Linked DNA regions of Homo sapiens: region 2 is linked to region 1. The links come from fine-mapping of genetic effects on gene expression. A gene starts in region 1. The other region holds a variant in brackets. All regions are shown on one strand. Distances are between the middles of the regions. Region 1 holds the start of CDKAL1 (CDKAL1 threonylcarbamoyladenosine tRNA methylthiotransferase). Region 2 holds the start of LOC107986578 (a long non-coding RNA gene).

Region 1 (12,714 bases):
TCTACTTAAAAAAAAAAAAAAAAAATAGGCGGGTGTGGTGGTGGGCGCCTGTAATCCCAGGTACTCAGGAGGCTGAGGCAGGAGAATCACTTGAACCTGGGAGGTGGAGGTTGTAGTGAGCCGAGATCACACCACTGCACTCCAACCTGGGTGACAGAGCAAGACTCCATCTCAAAGAAAAAAAAAAAAAAGATAGTAGAAGTATAGCACTCTGACCCCTAGTGGTTAAATTATGCAGAGAAAATTCAGCATTTGTCCAAAGACAATAGGAGGTTATTTCACATCATGTTCCTATATGATCTTTTTATCAGTTTATTAAAGAACATCAGCATTCTTCCCTTTTATTCTCTACATTGAAGCACCCATCCATCCGGGGCAATTTTTCGTTTCTCATAGATCTAGTATTTCTCTTTTTGCCCCCCTCTATTCCTCTGCTGTTACCATCTTTCTTCTTGGGTTCATCCAACACCTGCAAAACTTTCCTGAAAAACTGTTTAGTTGGCCAGGCACAGTGGTTCAGTCCTGTAATCCCAGCACTTTGGGAGGCCAAGATAGGCGGATCACCTGAGGTCAGGAGTTCGAGACCAGCCTGGCCAACATGGTGAAACCCCGTCCCTACTGAAATTACAAAAATTGGCTGGGCACGGTGGCATGCTCCTGTAAAAAAAAAAATTAAGAGCACTTAATAGTCATACTTTTCACTTTGCTTATATGTAGCTTATATATATATAAATATAAAAATCTGTTTTAACTCTCATTCTACTAAATTCACCTAATGTTCTACATAGAAAATTTCATGTATATTGTTTATCATCTTTCAAGAGTGAATTAAGCACATGAATATTTTCTCATGAAAAGGGATATTGATTGGTACAGATGTGTATGTATAATGGCTAGTTGCTCAGATCATCAACTAAATCTAAAACATGTGTTCCAGCTGGGCTGGTGGCTCATGCATGCAATCCCAGCGCTTTGGGAGGTTGAGGTGGAGGACTGCTTGAGGCCAGGAGTTCAAGACCAGTCTGGGCAACATAGTGAGACTCTGTTGCTGCAAAAAGAGTTTTAAAATTAGTCGAGCGTGGTGGCATGCCCCTGTAGTTTCAGCTACTTGGGAGGCAGAGGTGGGGGGACTGCTTGAGCCCAGGAGTTCAAGTTTCCAGTGAGCTCTGATGGTGCCACTGTTCTCCAGCCTGGGTGACAAAGCCAGACCCTGTCTCCAAAACATAATCTTAAAAAGCAGTTCCCAATTCTTAATTTTAATTTTATTTATTTATTTTTGAGAGAGGGTCTCATTCTGCTGCCTGGACTGGAGTGCAGCGGTGTGATTTCGGCTCACTGCAAACTGGACCTTCTGAGCTCAAGTGATTCTCCCACCTCAGCCTCCCGAGTAGCTGGAACCACCATGTCCGGCTACTTTTTTGTTTGTTTTGTAGAGACAGGGTCTGGTCATGTTGCCCAGGCTGGTCTCAAACTCTTGGGCTCAAGTGAAACAACTGCCTGTGCCTCCCAAAGTGCTAGGATTACAGGCATGAGCCACCGTGCCTGGCCCCAGATTTTTATAATTTTCATATTTTATTCTTTATTGATTAGTCACTGAGAGGGTAAGAATTGTGTAACTTCTTTCTTGTCCATATTTTCTCTTCAATTTTTACTGTGAAGGCCAACATAAAATATTTAAGGCAAACAGATTTTTTTTTTTTTTTTGAGATGGAGTCTCACTGTGTCACCCAGGCTGGAGTGCAGTGGCGCGATCTCGGCTTACTGCAACCTCCACCTTCCAGGTTCAAGCGATTCTCCTGCCTCAGCCTCCCGAGTACCTGGGACTACAGGTGCCTGCCACCGCGCCCGGCTAAGTTTTGTATTTTTAGTAGAGACGGGATTTCACCATCTTGGCCAGGCTGGTCTTGAATTTGTGACCTCGTGATCCACCTGTCTCGGCCCCCTAAAGTGCTGGGATTACAGGCATGAGCCACTGTGCCCGGTCCAGGCAAACAGATTTTATTCCACTTTTCCTTGATCACTCTTTTGTTTTTTCTCTCCAATGCTTTTTCTCTATTTGAAATTTTGCACTATTGTTGCTTTCTTCTGAAGTATTCATATAGAGTTGTTAAAACAACTGAAGTCAGACTGCCTAAGCTTTAGGTTTCTTCTCTGTTAAAAGAGATAACAAGATAATAATAGCACTCCTCATTTATAGGGTTACTTATGGGTGGTTATTGGCACACATTTATAAGTGTTTGAAAAAATCTTAGCTTTACTATTATTTTATAGATTTACTTGCATTTTTAATGTTCTTGGTATACACCAATTGGTTTGTTTACTTATTACCAAATATTTATAAAGCATTTAGTGTTATATTGTTGGCTGAAAAAACAGGAACAAAATAGGATGGTGTATATTTATGAAGCTTAACTCTAATTTAAGAAACAAAGCATTATTTTTTTTTTTCTTTGAGACGGAGTCTCACTGTGTTGCCCAGGCTGGAGTGCAGTGGCGCGATCTCAGCTCACTGCAATCTCCGCCTTCCAGGTTCAAGCGATTCTCCTGCCTCAGCCTCCCGAGTAGTTGGGACTACAGGCTCATGCCACCATGCCTGGCTAATTTTTTGTATTTTTAGTAGAGACAGCGTTTTACCATGTTAGCCAGTATGGTCTTGATCTCCTGACCTCGTGATCCGCCCACCTTAGCCTTCCAAAGTGCTGGGATTACAGCCGTAAGCCATCGTGCCTGGCCTTTTTTTTTTTTTTTTAATCTTTTTGAGATGGAGTTTCGCTCTTGTTGTCCAGGCTGGAGTGCAATGGTGTAATCTCCGCTCACTGCAACCTCCACCTCCTGGGTTCAAGAGATTCTCCTGCCTCAGCCTCCTGAGTAGCTGGGATTACAGGCATATGCCACCACACCCAGCTAATTTTGTATTTTTAGTAGAGACAGGGTTTCACCATGTTGGTCAGTCTGGTCTTGAACTCTTGGCCTCAGGCGATCCACCCGCCTCGGCTTCCCAAAGTGCTAGGATTACAGGCGTGATCCACTGCACCCGGACTTACTGGTTGCTTTTCAAAGGTTGTACAGATACTATAAATATATTTAACCAATACTCTATTGAGGAGGAGCCGGAGAGGGTTTCCAGTCTTTTGCTATTGTAAGCAATGCTTAAAAAAATACTCTGGAACATAGGTCATTGTAAGCAATGCTTCAAAAAATACTCTGGAACATAGGTCATTGTAAGCAATGCTTCAAAAAATACTCTGGAACATAGGTCATTATGTATATTTCTGTAAGATAAATTCCTAGAGGTAGGGTTACTGACTTCAAAGGATTTAGACTAAAGGTGCTTAAAGAGAGAGGTTTCACCTGTTAGTTAGTTTTTGTAGCCAAAACTTGAAAACATCCTTTCTTCCTCTTTTTTCGTACCTATCAATCACCAAGTCTTGCTGCTGTTACCTCCTCAATTTGTTTAAATCTGTCCTTCCTTCCCATTCCTCCCAGCCAACAACTCAATTTAGGCTTTTACTATTTCTTCATGTCTGAAATATCGTCCTCAAACCCATTGTCCTGAGAGAATAATCTGCTCGAACACATTCATGTTGCCTACTACATACATCCAGGATTAAGTCTAATGCCTTTGAATACACAAGGTTCACCTTGATCTAGTCCCTGTGCTTCCCTTTCTCTGGTAGACTTCTCCCATCACCAGCTTCACTCTCTTTGCTTTTACACTGTGGAATAATTCATCATTTCAGGCCTCCTTGCTTTTGCTCTGGCTGACTCTCCAGCTTGGAATGCCTTCATCCATTTCCCTTACTTCACCTTTGTGTTCCTGTGCATTCATCTTTCATAGTGATTGCTATTCTCTACTGAAATGAATTTTTTCAAAATAGCCTGCAATTGCAATAGGCAGTACTTTTTTTCTTTCTTTTTAGCTCTAGCATCTATCACAGTGCTTGTGGTCATGGGGTACATACTCAGTAAAATATCTTTTACTGAACTCAACTAGATCTTGGGGGAAAAGGGGTGGAGTCATTCATTCATTCATTCATTCATTCAACATATGTTTATTGAGAAGCTATAAACATAGGCACAAGGTTATGTGCTAGGTAGTGCGATTACAACCAAGAAGATAACCCAGGGCCTACTTTTGGTCTAGTGAAAGAGATGGAATTAGATGGGTATGGTGGTGTGCACCTGTAGTCCCAGCTACTTGGGAGGCTAAGGCATGAGAATCTCTTGAGGCTAGGAGGGAGAGGTTGCAGTGAGCTGTGATGGTAACACTGTACTCCAGCCTGGGTGACAGAAGAAGACCCTATCTAAAAAAAAAAAAAAAAAAAAAAAAAAAGTAGGGCAACATAAATACACAATTTTAATTTAGGTGGGTAAAGACAACAGTGGACCCCAGGGCACAGTTTAGATTATTTTATGGATATGGATAAACAGAGAAAAGGGTGGTTTTTTTTTTTTTTTTTAAATCTATTTTAGAGACTGGGTCTCACTGTGTTGCCCAGGCTGTTTTCAAACTTCTGAGCTCAAGTGATCCTCCCACATCAGCCTCTTGAGTAGATGGATGGCATTTTAATTAGATGAAATTGTACTAGGAAAGGCATTTGCAAAACAAAGTAATTGCCCCAAATCACTATGAAACCCTAAGTCAGGCATAAAACTCACGATTTCTGACCCTTCTTCATGGCCTATTGCCTCCTATTACCTTTACTTTTTCAAGTAAAGATATTCTTCTGGTAAACACATGGTCAAATACAGTGTCTTGGGTAACGAATAGTAAAGTGAGATAACATATGTAGAGAAAGCGGGTGAGAATCCGTACTCCATAAAAGTATTTTCTTTCCATAGGTGTCTGCTAAACTGCCATCTAAGTTTTCCAAAACAAAAAACAAAAACACTTGTGTGGTGCTCAATGATGTATATTAAGTGAAACCTACCAACTGACCTTTATCCTTTCCTTCCTGTTTTTTTAATATTAAAGAAGAGACCTCTTTTCACAAATGATTGAGGAGGCTAGTAAAATGCAGTGAAAAGAGCAAGTTCTTTGGGAGTCAGACAGCATCGGATCCAGCCCAGAGCGCAGCACGACTAGTAGAGTAACTTAGATTAAGTCCTTAAACTTCCAGTGTCCTCTTTTGTAAACTGGGAATAATAATAATAATAAATAAATAGTGAATAATATTTATGCAAAGTACTTAGCACAGTGTCTAACACATAAAAGCTTAGGAGAAGTTGGCTATTAAGCATTTCTAGGAACCCGAGGACTCAGGGTTGTTATTTTAGTTCTTGGAATCAAAGGAACTTGAAGCGTAGTCATTCCTAAACTAAGTTAAACCAGAACTAGCGCTTTCAGCAATGATGTAATTTGATCTCTTCGGGCCACCGTCGCTGAGCATGCGCAAATAAACGTGGCGGGACGTATGTGTCATGGCGCTCTCCATCTAAAGTCTGTGCAGCTTCCGGAGAGTGGCGGGTTGATTTTCTCACTTTGGACTGGTTTTTACTTCCCGACTTCTGGGTAAGGGTGGCCGATGGGTCCATGTGGGGCAGAGTGTGGCCACAGCTCCTTTTATGGCCAAGCCTTGTTTCTCCAGTTTCAGTTTTTCTTGGGCTGTTTGCAAATTTGTTTCGCAGTTAAAAGGGGATTTGCCAGCTGGGATGGGGGAATTGGGAGGCAGATGGGGCTTCCAGGAGCGAGGATAGGGTCGTTGGCCTCAGGTGCCGCTCTCCAGTTAGGAGTATTTTAGGCACCTCGTTCCTTATTGTCAGGTTTAACTTCATTTGTTCTCCCACTTTATACCTTAGTGAATTTGTAGATGTGACAAGGCTTTCGCAGTTATATAGCTTTCCCAGATCAGTATGTTAAGAATTTAAGCAGAAGTTATTGAGAAAAGCAGGTGTCTTGCTTTTTCACTTTTCGTTCTTCTTTGCTCATAAAACCTTTTTCTGAATCTCGGGACGACAGTTATCTTTCGGATGGAACGTGATCTGGATGTCTATCTACCTTATTGACTTAATCCTGTTTTGTAGTGGTTGGTTACTCGCACTATGCAGACGTGTTGCGGTGCTGAATACAACATTTATTACTAAAGCCAGACACTGGATCACCGTCACGGCAGATGTCAGCACACCTGTTGTAATCAGTAAGAAGTTACAAGTAGTATGGAGCATCATTAATCCTGCTGTATAAAGCAGTCTTTTATGGAGTCTGATTCCTTTTAAGTAAAGAATCCTTACAGTGGTTTTGTGAACTTTTTGGGTGCTTACTTTTCCTAATCAATTTTTATTTTCCAGACTCATCTTTCAAGAGGACTTTAGACTAATTGCAGATAATTAAGGTACTGATTTATTTTAAACCTTTTATGTTTGAGTGCTGTGCGTATTTCTGCATGTTAGAAAATGCAGAGAGGTAGCCTAATGTTTTAGCTATTTGCCACTATCATGTTATGGAAACATTGTGCTTTACATAGCATTAAATCGAAGAGATATTTTCATTTATTTTACTTAACCTTTCATTTTCATTCACCAGCATTGACCATGTCCACTTTTTTGAGATGCCCTTTTCATTTGCCTTCCATGGCCCATGGATTTTTTTCCTTGTCTGGTGGCTGCTTCTTGGAATCCATTATAAGCTGATTTTCCTTTATCTGGCAGTTAAATTTGGAGTCTCTCAAGTCGTGGTCTTGTACCTTCTCCTACCTCTGTTCTCTTTTTCTTCCCCTCTGGGTGATGTAATCCACATGCCTGTCAACAGTTATTTGTCTTTTTGATTCTACCCATCCTAATGGGTATGAAGTGGTGTATTATTGTGGTTTGGATTTCCATTTCCCTGATGGCTCATGATGTTGACATCTTTTCATGTGCTTATCAGCCATTTGTATGTGTGTGTTTTTGAGACACGGCTTCCCTATGCCACCCAGGCCAGAGTGCAGTGGCTCGATTACGGCTCACTGCAGCCTTGACCACCTGGTCTCAAGTGATCCCACTTCAGCCTCCCAAGTAGCTGGGACTACAGGTGCATGCCACCATGCCCGGCTAAATTTTACTTTTTTTTTTTTTTTTGTAGCGATAGGGTCCGTGTTGCCTAGGCTCTGGCCTTGTACTCCTGGCCTGAAGTGATCCTGCCACCTTGGCTTCCCAGTGTTGGGATTATAGGCATGAGCCTCTGCACCTGGCCCATTTCTGTATCTTCTTCATCTAATCTGTTTTTCCTTTTGTTGCTTGTGCTTTTCATTTCTTAGCTAAGAAAGAAGGGCCTACTCTAACATCATAAAGATTTGTGCTTATGTTTTTTTCTAAGAGTTTCATAATGTTAGCTCCTAAATTTAGGTCTATGATCCATTTTCGGTTAATTTTTGTATATGATGTGAAATGTGAAATAGGGCTCCAACTTTATTTTTTACATGTTGCTATCCAGTTATCCCAGTGTCATTTGTTGAAAAAAAAACTACGCTTTCCCCCTTGAATTGTCTAGGTTATGTATATTTGACATACATTCTAGGTGGTTTTTATGAAAGAATAATTCTGGGACAGTGATTATCAAACTTTAATTCAGATCAAAATCACCTAGAGGGCCTGTTAAATATTGCTAGGTTTTACTCAAAATATCTGATTTAGTATGTCTGGAGTGGAGTTCAAGAATTTTCATTTCTGGCTGGGCATGGTGGCTCATGCCTGTAATCCCATACTTTAGGGGCCAAGATGGGAGGAGTTTGAGACCAGCCTGGACAACAAAGCGAGACCTTGTTTTTACAAAAAAACTGAAAAAGAAAAAATGTTCATTTCTAACAAGTTCCCCATGATGCTACTCCAGCTGATGTGGAAACTACACTTTGAAAACCACTGGACATTGCTTTGCAACTGTGGCTGTACACACATGAGAATGACTGGAAAGTTTTTAAAAGATATTGATGCCCAGGCTCCATTCTCAGAGATTCATTCAGCTATCTTGGGGCTTAGTTGGGAATTTTCTTTTTTTTCTTTTGTTTTTGTTTTTGTTTTGAGACAGAGTCTCGCTCTGTCGCCCAGGCTGGAGTGCAGTGGCGTGATCTCGGCTCACTGCAAGCTTAGTTGGGAATTTTCAAAAGCTCTTCAGGTGAATAGAATGAGTGTTGAAGATTGAGAACCATTACTGTGGAATCGTGGTTCTTAATTAGGGATCTATAGTGGAATTACCTGGACAGTTTCTATGTTCACATACTTCAGTTCTACTCTTGGAGATTCTAATTCAGAATGGAACCTGGAGATTTGATATGATGAAAAGCTTCCCGCTGGGTGCAGTGGCTCACGCCTGTAATCCCAGCACTTTGGGAGGCCAAGGCAGGTGGATCACCTGAGGTTGGGAGTTCAAGACCAGCCTGACCAACATGGTGAAACCCCGTCTCTACTAAAAATACAAAATTAGCTGGGCGTGGTGGCAGGTGCCTGTAATCCCAGCTACTCGGGAGGCTGAGGCAGGAGAATTGCTTGAACCCAGGAGGCACAGGTTGCAGTGAGCCGAGATCGTGCCATTGCACTCCAGCCTGGGCAGCAAGAGTGAAACTCTGTCTCATAATTACAAAAAAAAAAAAAAAAAGCCTCCCTAATAACTCACCTATGTAAGTAACCACTGCTCTAGGATATTGCATCCTCCTTCTTCCTATCATTTTGAGTATTTTCCTTTTCACTGACTCTATTTTTATTCCCTTTATCAAATTTGATTTCCTCTACCTTTGAGAAAAATTTTTAATGATCCTTTTGCTCCATTTAGCTATTACGCTGCTTTCCTTTTATTCTCAAACTTTCATTTCCATATGATTTAATTAAAAATTTCTGAAGGCTAAACAATTCCCTCTATCAGTCTATCAGTTTGTTCAAAGTAAAACCTTTAGCTTATTAATAGTGATGAGTGAGATTATTTAGGTACTTATGATATACAGCCAGGTTTATGCTACATAATGCTGATATGCAGCGTTATATTTATCTTTTTTGAGTGAATATCTCCAAATGAAATTGCTGGCTCGAAGGATATACATATGTTTGGTATAATTGTCAGGTTGCCCTCCAGAAGGGGTGTACCAGTTTTTCTGTGCTTTCAGCTAACAGAGTTTTTGTCAGCTTTGTATCAGTGAGGCAGCTGAAAAATAACTTATTGTTTCAATACTTGTTGTTAGTGTGGTTGAGCATTCTTTCCTCTTTTTTTTTTTTTCTTTTCTGGGTATTTGTATTTCTTAAGTGAACTGCCTGTTTTTCCTTTACGCATTGTTTTCTGGAATGTGGTTACTTATTAGTGTCACATTAGATTCTTGCATTGTTTGTACTTTGCCAGTGAGGCAAAGCCATAGTGGGAAGAGCATGGTATTGAGAGGATGCCAAGGTTCTGATTTCTAGCTCTATCAATGTACAAATCCTTTTGCTTCAGTGGACTCCAGCTCTGTAAGATAAGAAGCTTAGCAACTTCTGCTTCTCTAACTCTAATGATATGGGATGTCTATTGCAGTGGATTCCTTTCATTCCTCTTTTTCCTTTCTATTTCTCTTCAGTGGATCCATACACACTTGTATATGGGATGGCAAAATTGTGTAATTAAAAAATATGGCTTTTAATTAATGTTATTTAATTATTCATGATCTGTCAGTAGTTCTTCCGCATTCCAAAGGCACTACCTGGTCCTAGCCTCTCTCATTTAATTATTTCATAGAAGAGTGGTGATAGAAGAAATCCTAGGGGTTGGGCATTTACTTCAGCTTCCCACCCAGTGTAGAATTTCCTGCTGTGTCATAGAAAGACTAGCTAAATTCAACTTAAGCATTGTGTTCATTCATTTAGTCAGTAACTATTGTGTGCCTGCTATGTGTCAGGCATTGTTAGAGGTGTTGTAGAGACAGTACTGAAAAAGAGATGATGCCTTTGTGCTTAACAAGCTTACATTGTAATGAGGAAGATACAATTATATATGTGGTGTCAGGTAGGTAAGCACAATGAAGAAACATGAAACAAAAGCAGGGTTAGAAGCAGTGAAAGTGTGGGCATGCTTGGGCAGCGTGGTTATTTTAGATAAGGTAGTAGGAAAGGCCTCTCCGAGGAGATGTTGTTTGAGTGAAGAAGTGGGTGGGAAGACATACTTATCTGGGGGCTGATATTCTGGCAGAGGAATAGCAATTATGAAGGCTCCCGAGTCAGAAACTAATTTGGCATACTCAGAATATCTATATCCATATATTGCCCGACTGTGTAGTCTGCAGTAAAAGTATTTATTGAGAACCTGCAATGTGCTAGACATAGTTCTAGGCACCTGGGATAAAACAGTGAACACCTCACACGAAAACCTTTACCCTCACGAAGTATGTATTCTAGTAAGATAAACAGTTAAAAAATTATTAAAACATTTTAAGCAGATGATTAAATGCTACAGTTTAAAAAAAGGCAGGAAAGGGGCATAGGAAGAGGGTGTGTGGTGAGGTGGGGGTGTTGGTTGGAAAGTCCTCTCTTGTTACACTTGAGCAAAGTCCTTAAGGGCTTGAGTGAGTGAGCCATTCAGGTGTCTTAAGTAAGAGCATTCCAGGCAAGAATAAGACTGTGAAATGAATGCATATCTAGTGGGTACGAAATAACAAAGCCTGCATGACTGAGGGGAGCGTGGTAGGAAGTGGGGCCAGAGATGCAGCAGGAGGCTGATTATATATGTCATTGCAGATCTTTGTAGTGATTTTGGCTTTTTACTCTGATATGGAATACCACTGGAAGGGTTTGATTGAGAAGCTTGAGATGAACTTAGGTTTTAAAGGGATCCCTGACTTCTGTGCTGAAAATGTTCTTGTAGAGTTTAAGGATAGAAGCAAGGATATTAGGGATTGCAATAATCCAGACAAGAGGTGATGTTGGTTTGGACCAAGAGTGTAACAGTGGGTATGGTCACAAATAGATTCTGAATATATTTTGAAGGTACAGCCAACAGGATGTTGTTGATTGATTGGATTTAGGGTGACAGAAAGAGGGGAGTGCAGGATTTTTGGCCTGAGCAGTAGAAGATTGGGATTGTCTTTTTTTTTTTTTTGAGACAGAGTCTCACTCTGTTGGCCGGGCTGGAGTGCAGTGGTGAGATCTTGGCTCACTGCAACCTCTGCCTCCTGGGCTCAGGCAATTCTCCTGCCTCAGCCTCCCAAGTAGCTGGGGTTACAGGCGCTCGCCACTATGCCTGGCTAATTTTTTGTATTTTTAGTAGAGATGGGGTTTCACCATGTTGGACAGGCTGGTCTTGAACTCCTGACCTTGTGATTCACCCACCTCGGCCTCCCAAAGTGCTGGGATTACAAACATGAGCCACTGCGCCCAGCCAGGATTGCCATTAAATGAAATGGGAGAAGTTGTAAGAGGATCTGGTAAGGTAGGGAGAAGATCAGGAATTCTGTTTCGACTTTGACTTTTTTTTTTTTTGGGATGGTGCTTCGCCCTTTGTCGCCCAGGCTGGAGTGCAGTGGTGCAATCTCAGCTCACTGCAACCTCTGCCTCCTGGGTTCAAGCGGTTCTTCTGTTTCAGTCTCCCGAGTAGGTGGGATTGCAGGTGCCCACCACCATGCCTGGCTAATTTTTGTATTTTTAGTAGAGACGAGGTGTCACCATGTTGGCCAGGCTGACCTCCAACTCCTGACCTCAGGTGATCCATCCGCCTCAGCCTCCCAAAGTGTTGGGATTACAGGCGTGAGCCACCATGCCCAGCCCTGTTTTAACTTTTTAAGTTTGAAGGAATTATTAGACATTCAAGCAGTGGTGTGGAATAGGCAGTTGAACGTCTGAGTCTGAAGCTCGGGGGAAGAATGGGGCTGGTTATGTAAGCATAGACGTAGTTCATATTTCAAGGCCATGGGACTGGATGAGGTCACCTAGGGAGTGCCTGAAACTAGAGAAGAGTTCCTGTAACAGAGCCATGGGGGCATTCTAATGGTGAGAAGTTGGAGAGATGAGCAGAGGAGACTGGAGCTAGGAGAGTGTGGCATCCTGGAAACTAGTGCAATTTCTTACTGCAGTTCTTCAGTCTTTAATAATGCACACTGTGAATGGGTAAGGACGCAGAATTTTCTAAATTTATTTGACCACAGAACCATTTTTTTTTCCAGATAGGTAGTAAATAATTAGAAGCAATTTGGGAAAGACTAACCTGGTTCATTTCACCCTACCTGGATGGCTGAGTTGGCCAGGGCTCTTTTTTGCAAGAACAGAATACCCACCTCAAACTGATTTAAGCCACAGGCTCGCATGACTGGGCAGAGCAGGGCTGCATTTGGCTTCAGGCATTTGTTGGATTCAGATGCTCAAATAATGTCAGTATGGTTCTTTATCTTTCTAGATCTTATTAGGCTTCATTCCTTAAGTAGGCTTCCTCCCTGTAGCAGACAAGAGGGCTCTGGTATCCCCAAGTTGACATCCTCCCAACTTAGCCACTTCAGTGACAAGAGAAGCTATCTTCTGTTAACACTAGCGTAGAATCCTCACAGTGATTCTTATTGGCTAGGCTTCTCATGACTGACCTTGAACTGGTCATTGTGGCCAGGAGGATGAGTTACCCTGGCAAGCTTGGGTCATGTTCCCCATTCCAGTGTCTAGGGAAAGGGAAGTCTGTGATTGACAGTCTTTTTTTTTTTTGAGACAGAGTTTCGCTCTTGTTGCCCAGGCTGGAGTGCAATGGCGCGATCTCGGCTAACCAAAACCTCTGCCTCCCGGGTTCAAGCAATTCTCCTGTCT
Region 2 (12,714 bases), 700 kb after region 1:
GTGTGCCTCTTAATGGTATACATAAGGAACAAAAATAGCACGGGTCAATTCTATTTTAGAAGCAAATAAAATAATGACTTTGTAATTTACAAAAAGAATTTCTGAGGACGTTTGCGTTTTTCATTAGAACCACAGAATACCATGGAATAAGTTAATCTGAATTGACATTTAAATGTTCAGAACACTTAATCTATATATATCTAATTTAATCCTCATAAAAACCCTATGATGCACAAATACTAGCAGTATCTCCATTTTACAGGTGAGGAAATGGAGGCAAAAAGAGGATAAAATTTGCCTGAGAATCCTCAGATGGAGCTGGGATTAGAGCCCAGAGCTCGAGGACTTACTGCTCCTAGAACCGGTTCCATCTGTGCCTTGTGGCGTGAAACATGCTCAAGTTAAAAGCATCTCTTTCCTTTCCCCAACAATACGTGCACAACTGCTAAAGACGAAGGAAATAGAGATAGACTGTTGTTATCATCCCAACTGTCTGTATTTATCTTTAACTGATTGAAATCTGATCCCTAAAGTTTCTGAACATGAAAGTTTTTTTTTTTTTTTTTTGAAATTTTGGTATCCATACTTGGTTCTGCTTTAACAGATTGATTACTTTGATAGGATTTGATAAGCTACACTTTTGAAAATTAGTAGATTATTTTTAAGAGTTAGCAAGTAAGTAGATTTAGAAATTAATCAAGGGAGCAGTGAGATTTACAAGGGAAGACAAACCCATGTTAATCAAAGTTAACACAGAATGCACGATGGGAATTTTAGTGCGCCCCTTAGTCTTTATTATAACAGGATAAATAACTCCATTTAACAGATAAATAACGCCTTTTGCGTAAGCAAAGGTCATATCCTGCCTTGTTTCAAATTTCTGTTTTTAAAAAAGCATTTCTGAGTAGAATTTGAGTTCTTAAAAATTGTCTGAGTTGATGTTCCAGCTTGTTTTTTTTGTTGTTGCTGTTTTTGTTTTGTTTTGTTTTGTTTTTGAGATGGAGTCTCACTCTGTCACCCAGGCTGGAGTGCAGTGGCGCGATCTCGGCTCACTGCAAGCTTCGCCTCCTGGGTTCACACCATTCTCCTGCCTCAGCCTCCCGAGTAGCTGGGACTACAGGCTCCCGCCACCACGCCTGGCTCATTTTTTGTATTTTTAATAGAGACGGGGTTTCACCGTGTTAGCCAGGATGGTCTCATCTCCTGACCTCGTGATCCGCCTCGGCCTCCCAAAGTGCTGGGATTGTAGGCGTGAGCCACCGCACCCAGCCCCAGTTTGTTTTAATAAGCAATAACATTATTCGAATTTGGTGTATGATACTTTGAGCGATGCAGATATGTATTGAATTTCAGGAATTGACAATCTTGATAAGGTTTTAAAGGTTTAGGGAAGGTCTGAGCCTCTGTTTACTTTCTAGAACTACGCTTGTCGTGTGTGTGTCGACTTTTTCTATCGGCTGTTTATAATCACTTCGCCTATAAGCACTTTTTATTACATTATTTTCTATTCATGATCCCTGCTTTCAACTGGTATGGTTGTACATTTACATGTTTGAGCATCTTGGACTTTATAAGATCTCATATTTCCCATATTTCTAAACTACTTTTTCTTAAGTATCTCAGTGGTAGTGACAATTGAAATGTGCAAAGCTAGCTAGCTACTGATTATTAATTACTCTGTCATCTGAGAAACTTTAAAAATATTATGTTTAAAAATAGTATCATCAAAATCCTTTTATCAAGATCTTGATTTGGTAAAAGGTGAAAATAATAAAAGGGCACAGCACAATAGAGACAGGATGCATTTACCCTCTCCTGCTCCGCGGTCACGCTCCCGCCTTGATCCTCAAGAGAGTGGCAAATCTTGTGGCTGCATATGCATGCTTCTGCTTCTCTGCAGGATGCAGGGTGCAGACTTGTCCAGCAGGCACAGGAGGAAAGCTCAGCACCAAAATACCTTTATGAATCAGTTATGTTCAAATATGTTAAACATCTGAGGGGTGGAGAGAAAAAAAGGATGCCCGAGGAAGAATGACTAAACTTAACATGACCACAAATAATCCTCTCCGGTAGTTCAGTAGGTAACTTTATTTTGAACAAAATTTTATGGCAGATGAGTTGAAAGGAGAAGAAATTTTCTGAAATTGTCATCAGAAGTCAAAGAGTTTTGCTTTTATTTTAACCCAGGCCAAGAAGGCGCAGTACCTGCACTGCTTCATGAAACAAAAAACAAAACGTGTTATCAACCCAACTAAATGCTTAAGATTTTAAGACTCACCTAGTCCTTCCCCAGGTCAGCCTGACACCTGGCCTGGCACCACTAATCATGGCACAGGTTCAGAACCAAGGTCAAGCATTCTGAACTGGGGATAGGGAAAAGGGTGGATTTTCCCTGAAGCTCGTGTAGCCAGTTTCGGGGTCTCTCAATTTGAGGGGCCCCTTCCAAGACCCTGTACCTAATTTTGTATTCATTATTTTTTTCTTAAAGAGAAGGCTTCAGGACCCACAAAATCTGGGTCCACTCCTGGGTGAAGGTATCTGTGAACCTCCTGAAGACAAGAGTGTGAGCGAGGCTGTGTGGATATGTAAATGTGCTTCCATATTTTTCTGGAAGGGTCTGTGTAGTCTTCTCAAAGCCATCTATGACTTACAAAGGTTAAAGAACTCAGGCCTCGGAGAAATTAATCAACCTCTTAATTCTGGTCTTATAACACCACACTTATAAAGTGATGGTTTAATTGCTAGAGGCAACAATTTGTGACTCAAGTAGAATAGCTTCCTGAATGTATCACAGGACACATTGATCACCAGAGACATAGATGAGAATGTTCTTGATGGTTGCTCATCTCATTGGAATACACACTCTCATATTATTCACTCGATCAGTCATTCATTCATTCATTCCTAAACACTTACTGAGTACCTGCTCTGTGACTGCAGCCTGCTAGGTTCCAAGATTTCAGAGATGAATTAGGCAGACTCGCTGCTTTTGAGGAACTCACATAGTTCCTATCAATCAATTCAGCTGAAGGACTCTGCATTCTTTCTCCAGGTTCCCACATATATGTGAGTGCTGTCCTTGAGATCTTGAGGCTATTTTAAATAGAAATGGAAGCTCTTCAGCATAAACCTCACTCCAAAATATTACGCAAAAAGCCACCCTCATAAGAGAGCTGTCTCCTGGGGATGGGGACAGGTCTTCGTGCACCACTGAGCTCCAGCTCTTGCCTCCCCCTGCCATGGGAAGGATGGTCCCATTCTGTCCAGCTGTGTGCCTCCTTACGAAGGACTCAGAGTGCAGGGAGACCAGCAGGATATCGGCCCGGATACCTGAGGAGTGCAGCAGTAAATAATGCTTCCACTGTCATTATGGTTGAGAGACTTTTCCTTGTGGCTAACAGCTGTGTTAATTCTGCTGTTAGCCTTCTACAGACAGAGCAAGAATTCTTCCCACACAATCACATATAAATAGGAGCCTGTGGAAACTGGGCTGTAGAAGTTGTTTTCATTTCCCCATTCCTATTCTTTGTGTCTTGCATTACCCAATCCTTTGAATTCAAATCCTATTGATTCTACATCAAAAGTCTGTTGTTCCCTCTGCCGTCATCCTGATAGAGGTCCTCATTATCTCCCATTTCATCTGTTGCTACAACTTACCACTGGATTTTCTACCCCATTCTCCTGCCTCCCTTCAGTCCACCCCACACATTCCTGTTCCTGTTACCTTCTGCAAAGCACCATTCCAGTGTCTCTCCTGTGCATGCTGAGATGCAGCTTCCCAAACAGAAGCCAAAGAGGTACCAGGAGGTTGCTAGAGCGCTTGGAAGGGAAGACTGAGCAAAGTACCATGGTTGTTCAAAGATACTTTGTGCTTCTGTGGATTTCCTGTCCTGTCCTGCACCGCCTCTGGGCTGCCCCTCCGCCCTAGCATTTTTCCTTCCATCTAGCATTTCTCATCTGCTCCTTCCACACCCCTCCTTCCATCTCTCAAAATGTTATTCAGGTTTCAACAGGGGAGTCCCATGTTATTGGGGGAGGCACCGATTCTGAAGCAGGTACACGAGGTGAAAATATCATCAATTGTGCTTCGAAACTAGAGCCACCCTGACAATAGCCAGGTGCTCCTCTCTCCGCTTCCCTGGACACCAGCTAAGAAGCCGGTGAACAGAAACCACTGAGAAAAGCTGCACAGTCAGGTCCCCAGCTTCTCAGCTCTGCCCAAGCAGGGTTTCCCAACCTGTTCTCTATCTGGCATGAAGAGAAAATGATGATAGTATTTGTATGGCACACAAGGTACTTTGAGGGGACTGAGTGTGGGGTTATGTGGGGTGGGTCACTCTTGGCGCAGCCCTCCTGTGGCAGCAGACCAGCTGGGAATCTTTGTCCTAGGGATGTGTTTGCTGAATCATGGCTTCCATGGTTGTTGGTTGGTTTGTTTGTTTTTGAGACAGGGTCTCACTCTGTTGCCCAGGCTGGAGTGCAGCAGCGCAATCTTGGCTCACTGTAGCCTTCACCTTCCAGGTTCCAGCAATTCTCCTGCCTCAGCCTCCAGAGTAGCTGGGACTACCGGCACCTGCCACCACACCCAGCTAATTTTTATATTTTTAGTGGAGACGGGGTTTCACCATGTTGGCCAGGCTGGTCTCAAACCTCTGACCTCAAGTGATCAGCCCGCCTTGGCCTCCCAAAGTGCTGGGATTACAGGCGTGAGCCACCACACCTGGCCCATGGTGTTTCTTTGTCATTCTTCCATTGCTGAGAAGATATGGTTGCATCTCTCTAAGAGTTAAATATGTCTGTGGTATGACTCCACTTTACACAGATTCTACCCTTCATGAATTCTGCCTTGATTTTCTATAAACACGGCCCGTCTTTCTCATACAGTTTATGTGTAGTCTGGAGTCATGAACTTGGCCTGGCCCTTCAAGGAAAGGAACTGACTCATTCATACCTACCTTGGGGCCACCTGGCCCATGGTGGGTGTTCAAACGTGTCTCTGTTGAAGGAGTACATAAAAGGCGGCACCTTCTGGAACCCATTGCTTGATTGATATCACAACAGGGCTTTCTCTGCATCTAAAAATAATTTTTTCCTCTGTTTCTCTCTTTATAGGACTTCAGAAATGGGCTTGGGAACCAGCTGAGTTCAGGATCCCACACCTCTGCTGCATCTCAGTGTGACTCAGCGAGTTCCAGAATGGTGCTGCCCATGCCAAGGCTACATCAAGACTGTGCGCTGAGGATGTCCGTGGGCTTGGCTCTGCTGGGTCTTCTTTTTGCTTTTTTTGTCAAGGTCTATAATTAGAATACAACTAATGGAAACATCTATAAAGAAGAATACATTTCTAATTAAAATCTTCAATGAACAGGAAAGCGACATCTCCATTCTCCAAGGGCAATAATTTGTACTGGTCATGCTGCCTCCTTCTCAGCCACTCTTCTTAATGAGGCTCCCCCTGTCTCACATTGAGTTGGGCCCATTGGTTATTTGACCTAAAACCTAATCACCGCTACCATAGCACATCCTTCAAATTAAACTGCTTTTGGTTTACTTTTAGCAAGAAATGCAAGCGGTTGCATTTTTTTCTGTTTGTTTCAATCTCTAATCTTTAAGTCAGAACCTAATTGTACAGTGGCTCTGGCCATCTTTTCCTCATGTGGAAGAATTTTCTATCTTTAATAAACTTTTTCTTTGTTTTTTTTTTCCAGATGGAGTTTCGCTCTTGTCCCCCAGGCTGGAGTGGTGCAGTGGCACGATCTCAGGTCACTGCAACCTCTGCCTCCTGGGTTCAAACGATTCTCCTGCCTCAGCCTCCCAAGTAGCTGGGATTACAGGCATGCGCCACCAAGCCCAGACAATTTTTTTGTGTTTTCAGTAGAGACGGAGTTTCACCATGTTGGCCAGGCTAGTCTCGAACTCCTGACCTCAAGTGATCCGCCCGCCTCGGCCTCCCAAAGTGCTAGGATTACAGGCGTGAGCCACTGCGCCCGGCCTCTTTAATAAATATTTTTAAGTGCATCTTCCCCTTCAGGCTTTGTTTGGAGTCCCAGTGCTACAAACATTGTATTTTTCACAGCAGATGTGTTCCTGAAAAGTGTATAGAAACCTGTTCTGGGAACCTGAATGCTTTTGGAATGCACGGGGAGAGTCTGCCAGCTAAAGGACTCCTGGCAACATTCTGTGAAATATGAAACTGGAAAACTGGATTTGTCGAAAACTAATTGTGCCCATTTTCTCACATTTTTGATCCATTGGGGTTTTTTTTTTGTTTTTGTTTTT[T/G]TTTTTTTTTGAGTCAAGGTCTCACTCTGTCACCCTGGCTGGAGTGCAATGGCACTATCTTGGCTCACTGCAGCCTTGACCTCCTGGACTCAAGCAGTCCTCCTACCTCAGCCTCCCTAATAGCCAGGGGCTACAGGCATATACCACCATGCCCAACTAATTTTTTAATTTTTTGTAGAGATGAGTGTCACTATGTTGCCCAGGCTTGCCTGGAACTCCTAGCCTCAAGCAGTCTTCTTGCCTCAGCCTCCCAAAGTGCTGGGATTACAGGCGTGAGCCACTCCACCCAGCCCAGATTAAATGTTTTTATTTCTACCTGCCATCATTGGTCTTTACTAAGTGAAGTGACTTCTTTCTTTAACAATAAATAGAATTGGTATACTAAGCAAATCCTATGTTTTTGAGAATTTATTTGGATTGCATAGGTACAGGAAAACCAGGTACCGTGTAGTTACCATAGGATATTTTCCATCTCGAAACCCATACCCCTCTTCAGCTCTTACATTTAACTCAAAATGTTTGTGTTTTGTGTGTCTTTTAAGGAACCCAAATTAAAATTCAGTCATGTCCTAGTTGGTAAATTATAAAATATATATGCTTTTAGTGTTAGTACATTTCTCCTGGAACTGGTATGTGCTTCTAAGAGGTGCTCACATTTAGAATGCAAAAATCCTCCTGTGCTGCTTCTAGTCCTGCAGTGAAACATCCACTTGGGAGCACCCCTCACTTCTTAGCAGGAATGAGAAGAGGACAAGAACCTACCATGTGCCTCCCTTCTTGAGCTCTACGCAGTCATTTCTTTGTTAATAAACAGTGGGTTCCAGTGTGGTGCTCATTTAACAAAAACCTAGCAGAGATAAAAATGCCATCCAAAGCCTAGAGTTGCACTAGATCAGACATAGAGAAAGCTTTACACCTGTAACTGATTGGAGACAAAAAGGATTTTTTCTACCTCCCTTTTCTCTTTCCCTACTCTTTTCCTCACTCCCTCATCTGTTTATTTCCTCCCTTCTAGCTCTATGCTGTCCTCGCCTTTTTTCATTTTTTTCTTCCTGTAAGAGAATGATACACCCAGTCATCCAAATTCCCCCCCTGCTGCTCTCACCTACCATGGCAGGGATCCTCAAGGATCGTTTCAGCTGTACAGGATTCTCCCTACTTCCTGCTGTGACTGTTATTTACCCTCAATTTGGCTGCAGCTTCACTCTGCCGTTTGACCCAGAAAGGGACCGAGGTCACTGCCCGCAGCAGACGCTGGACCTTCATGAAATCAGTCTCCATACTGGCGACCAATTGGTGAGAGGGGTAGCAGTGTTCTGGAAATCCAGGGTTTTTCTTCCCCCTGTGACCTCCATCTCTAGGGAGGGGGAGGGAGAGAGCAGAGAAGGATGCAGTGCAAGTTAAAAACAGTTTTCTTAAGCCCTGGACTCTGAATGGGGCTGAGTCTGGGAACCACGGGAGCAAGTGTGATCATGAGTAGAGCTGTTACTTTTCCAGCCTGTCTCCTTCCTGCCCACAGTGCAACTGCGCTTCTCCCGCCCCGCTGAAGTTAGGCACGAAATGTGAAATGTGAGCGGAAGGGTCACGTCCTTCTTCGGGGCAGACATGTTCAGAGCTGGTGTACGGTTTACTGTGTGCTCTTCCCACTGCTGTGGTGATCCTGGACCCATATGTCAGAATGACGCCTCCCCGACCCTGGGTCCCTGAGTTAGTACAGTTGAGTAGGGCTCCTGGCCAGCATGTGCTACATAGGCATCAGGAACCAGAAATATATTGTGGTTGTGTTAAGCCACCGGCATCTGGGGGTCGTAGCCGTAGCATTCGTAACCTGATTTATACGAAGTGTCAGCCGTGATAGGATGCTTGACCCGCAGATTGTAAATGTAATTGTTATGTTTTCTTTGTATGCTTTTGTATGCTTTGCATTAGTATCAAGGGGTGTGTGTGTGTGTGTGTGTGTGTGTGTGTGTGTGTGTACTTCTCTGCTGAGAAGGAAACCTATGAAGTGATCTTTTCAATGCTTTGGCCAATTTTTTTCTTAAACTCTTTACTAGAATAAAACATACATATGAAATGGACATAAATCATAGGGATACAGGGATTTTTAAAAACTGAGCAAGCATTGTAGCCAGCACCAGGAGGCTCCCCATGTACCCTCCTAGCCATTAAGTCTGCCCCGCAAGGAGTAACCAGTATCCTTATTTCTAACATTACAGATTGATTTGCCTGATTCTAAACTTTCTATAAGTGGAATCATGTAGTATGCACTATTTCATGTCTACCTTCTTTTGTTCTACAGTGATTGTGAGACACATCCAGATTATTGTGTGAGCAGTAATTACTTCACGTTCATTGCTGAATAGTATTTCAGTGTATGAGTACACCACATTGTTCATTCTACATTTGAGTTCTTTCCAATTTTTTGTCTATTATGAATAATGCTGCTATAAACACGTTTTGTTAAGTGTTTATGTGATGATGTGAGGAGTACATGTCTAGGGGTGGAATTGCTGGGTCATAGCATTTGCATATGTTCAGCTTAGATACTGCTAAATGGTTTTCTGAAGTGGTTGTACCAATTTACATCCCCACCAGCAGTTGACATGAATTCTGTCATTCTCCCACTATTTTTTCTCTTTGGACCTTAGATATTCTTCAGCAGACCTTGTCTCTGCTGTCTCCCTTCCACAAGTCATTCCTATTTTAATAGTAATGATAATATTGACAACCATTAACTGTCTAGTCCTTAAATGAAATGCACTGGATGTTATACTTTGCACTTAACAGGTGTTAATCAGTCCTGAAGAAAAAATTTTGAGATACGTATTGTGATTCCCATCATACTGAGAAGAAAATCTAAAACTCAAAAGACTAAGTAACTTGTGCAAGAGGCACAGAGCTCTTAAGTTTAGAGGCAGGACTGGTACACAGCCTGACTCCAAAGCATATACTCCTCTTCTGTAAACTCCTCCTGCTCCTCTGTCCCATCTTTGACTTAAACTTGACCTGTGCCAACAGATACACATTTAGGATCAATCCTGTGGATGCCTGAGCTTGGGGGCCTTCAGCCTTTCAGTCTGTGTTGTCCTGCTCCAAGAATGTGCATGGTACTTGATATACTTTTTAAATAAAGATTTACTAATCAAGCTTTTTTCTTTGCCCTGCCCCCTCCTTCCTTCCTTCTTTCTTTCCCTCCTTTCTATTGTCCCTGCTTCATCTTATCATCCCTGCTTCCTTTCTTATCATCCCAGCATGAGATAGTCAGTTTGAGAATGTAAAGAATTCTTGGGTTAAAACTTTGCTTTGTTGCTGGGAAAATGTGTCTAAACATCAGATTTCCATATGTCATTCAGTCAAAACATATACTACTTCTACTGACTTCACTCCAGGTTGAAAATTTCAGTGTATATTGTAAGATGTCATGGAGGGAGAATTAGAGTTACAAATCAAGCTTCAAGAGGGTTTGTCATCATAAAACAAACATAGGAAAAAAATGAAGAGAGAGAGGGAGGGAAGAGAAGAAAGGAGGGGAGAGAAAAGGAAGAAAAAGAAAAGGAGAAAAGATATTCTTAAGGCTTGCAGCAACAACAAAAAAGGTAATCATATGAGATGATGGGTATGGTAATTCACTTGACTGTAGCCACCATTTTGCTGTGTATATGTGTATCAATACATGTTCACCTTAAATACTCACAATAAAAAATGAATATGTACGTTTTCTAAAAGGTTTGCTGGTCCCCCCAGGCACCCCAGGATGCTGTGGCACATTCACAGGAGCACCCTGGGATTCCTTAAATTTTTGGAGGGAACACAGCAACATCTGTCAGATACCAGGCCAACTACCAGCTCAAAATAGTTCACAGTTTTCAACGTTAGATTTCACAAATTTTGATGACACCATGTCTTTATAAAACTGGATTTTCAGCAATTGCTGTGATAAAAAGCAAGTATCAAGTGAAAATCAATGTGGAACAAGAAGTGAAAATTGTGATCATAGTCCAAGGTTTGAGAAGGGGTGCTGTACCCAACAGATGCACAGCTGCCATTAATAAGTAAAATTAATATGAAATAAAATATTAATATTTTTATCTAAGTTACATGTATTATTTTTTCAAACGGTTCTCATAAGATAGTAGGATATAAATGCTTATTCAGTTGTCAGGATTACCTATTTAAACAGAAGGTTAGCTGCTGCTTTTGGCCTAGGGGTACAAACAATCAAGAAAGTTTGAAAACCTCTGCTCTATGATACAACCTAATTTAAAGGATCCATGTCAAACTTATAATCTGGAGTCCTAATCCCTTCTCAAAATATTTTCCCCTTACTTTAAAGTTAGATTATCCATAGCATGTGTTTGATAAATTTACACTGGACTTGCCGTTGAGTTTGATTTTTATGATGTTGAAACTGTAAAGGAGTTAACAATCAGAATCACTTGGATTCAGCTCTCAGTTGTTTCCAATACAAATTTGAGGCAGAAAATATAAGGAAAGACCATGAGATTTTTGACATCAGCAAAACTTTAAATTCCAGCCAGACCACTTTTTCTTTTTGAGCCACATCTCTAAAACAGGAACAAGATTCCATTGTGGGTCATTGAAAGATAAGTGAACTCATGCATATAAAATACTGTATTCTTGACACATGACATTTCCTCCTCTTTTTTGATTACTGTAGCCACTTAAAGGTGAAAAATACCTTTATAAATAAAGTTAGGTGTTTTAAATTCTGATATCAACACATGACCACCCAAAAGATTTATATATGGAATAAAAAGATTCCTACCTTGAGAGAGATAGAGTCTGATTCTAACAAATGCAGCAAAGGAAGAAAAATTCAAAGGCAATGGACTGCAGCTGTATTTGAGGAGATCAAATTAATGAATAGTGTGGAGCACAGATTTGGGTGGCCAATCTAAGATCAAGAAGGAGATTTTCCATGGCCAAAGATGAAAAGAGCAACCAGATTAATAGGGAGGCCTAGAAGTCATGCCCTCCCCCATCCTGCTTTGAGACTAAAAGGAAATGCAGACACTATTATTCTTGATTAGTTTTCTGTCAATTATTTTCTCCCAGTACTGTTTCCTAGAGTTCTATAGCCAAAATATCTCAACGGTGTAGAAGCTGAAGCAAAGGATGTCACTTGGTGTCTCATGATCTTCCTAGCTTCTGGGTATCTGAATACATTTCTGAGCACTAATGATGCAAGTTCTCAGGAAAAAAAAAAGCAGGGGGATGGAGGAGAACAACCTTGGGTCAAGGTAAAGGAAAACTTGGAGTTCAGAAAAACCTAAAGAAGTATGAGTTTTTAACTCCGAGGTTTATCTAATCTGCTTTTAATATGCCCAATTAATCACAAACCAATAGATGTTATACTAGACAGTCTGATTCCAAAGCCCAATGCCTGCTTTCACCACTGCTGTTTACATTGTACTGGGAGTTCTAGTGAGAACTATTAGACAACAAAAAGAAGTAAAGGGCATCAAATTGGAAAGGAGTAGGTAACACTATCTCTATTTGCAGATTACATGATCATATGTATAAAGCATCCCAAAGAAACCACAGGAAAGCAACTAGAGCTAATAAATGAATTTAGCAAAGTTACAGACTATAAGACCAATGCAAAAAAAGAAATTCATTTGTGTTTTTTTACACTAGCAATGAACAATCCGAAAAGGAAATTGAGAAAGCAGTTCCATCTACAATAGCAGCTAAACAAATTAAACACTTAGGAATATATCTAACTAAGGGGGTAAAAGATTTGTATGCTGAAAACTAAAAATCATTGCTGAAAGAAATTTATGAATATCTGAAAAATGGAAAGGTATCGTATGTTCATTAATAGGAAAACTTAGCATTAAGATGTTAATACTACCCAAAGTGAGCTACAGATTAAACACACTCTCTATCAAAATTCTAACAGCCTGTTTTACCAAAATGGAAAAGCCAACCCTCAAACTCATATGGAATCACAGGCAACCCCAAATAGCTAAAACAATCTCTAAAAAGTAGACTAAAACTGGAGGACTCATGTTTTCCAACTTCAAAACTTCCAACAAAGCTACAGTAACTACAACTGTGATACCTGCTTAAGGACAGACAGAGACCAAAGGACTAGAGTAGAAAGCCCAGAAATAAATTCTCACATATGTAATCAATTGATTTTCAACAAGGGCGCCAACACCATTAAATAGAGAAAGGACAGTATTTTCAACAAATGCTGTGGGGAAAACTGGATATCCATGTGCAAAAGAATAAAGTTGGACTTCACCTTATACCATGTACAAAAATTACCTCAAAATGGATCAAATACTTAAACTTGAGTTAAAATTATAAAACTCATAGAAGAAAACATTAGGGAAAATCTTCATGACATTGGATTTGGCAATGATGTCATAAATATGACACCAAAAGTACAGGTAACAAAAAAATGGA

Evidence for each region.
Region 2: its variant is fine-mapped to the expression of CDKAL1 in whole blood (INTERVAL, PIP 0.98).

What each region holds. Positions count from the first base shown.
Region 1 is chr6:20,529,063-20,541,776 of GRCh38, forward strand. It overlaps CDKAL1 (CDKAL1 threonylcarbamoyladenosine tRNA methylthiotransferase), which reads left to right and starts at 5,395. Exons shown (of 16, transcript NM_017774.3): 1 at 5,395-5,512; 2 at 6,289-6,332. RefSeq lists enhancers at 5,324-5,483, 5,514-5,593.
Region 2 is chr6:21,225,736-21,238,449 of GRCh38, forward strand. CDKAL1 (CDKAL1 threonylcarbamoyladenosine tRNA methylthiotransferase) reads left to right here. Exons shown (of 16, transcript NM_017774.3): 16 at 5,113-6,669. The coding sequence ends at 5,304. It overlaps LOC107986578 (a long non-coding RNA gene), which reads right to left and starts at 5,324. Exons shown (of 2, transcript XR_001744021.2): 1 at 4,956-5,324; 2 at 2,069-3,093. RefSeq lists an enhancer at 4,486-5,685. The variant T/G (reference allele first, on the strand shown) is at 6,280.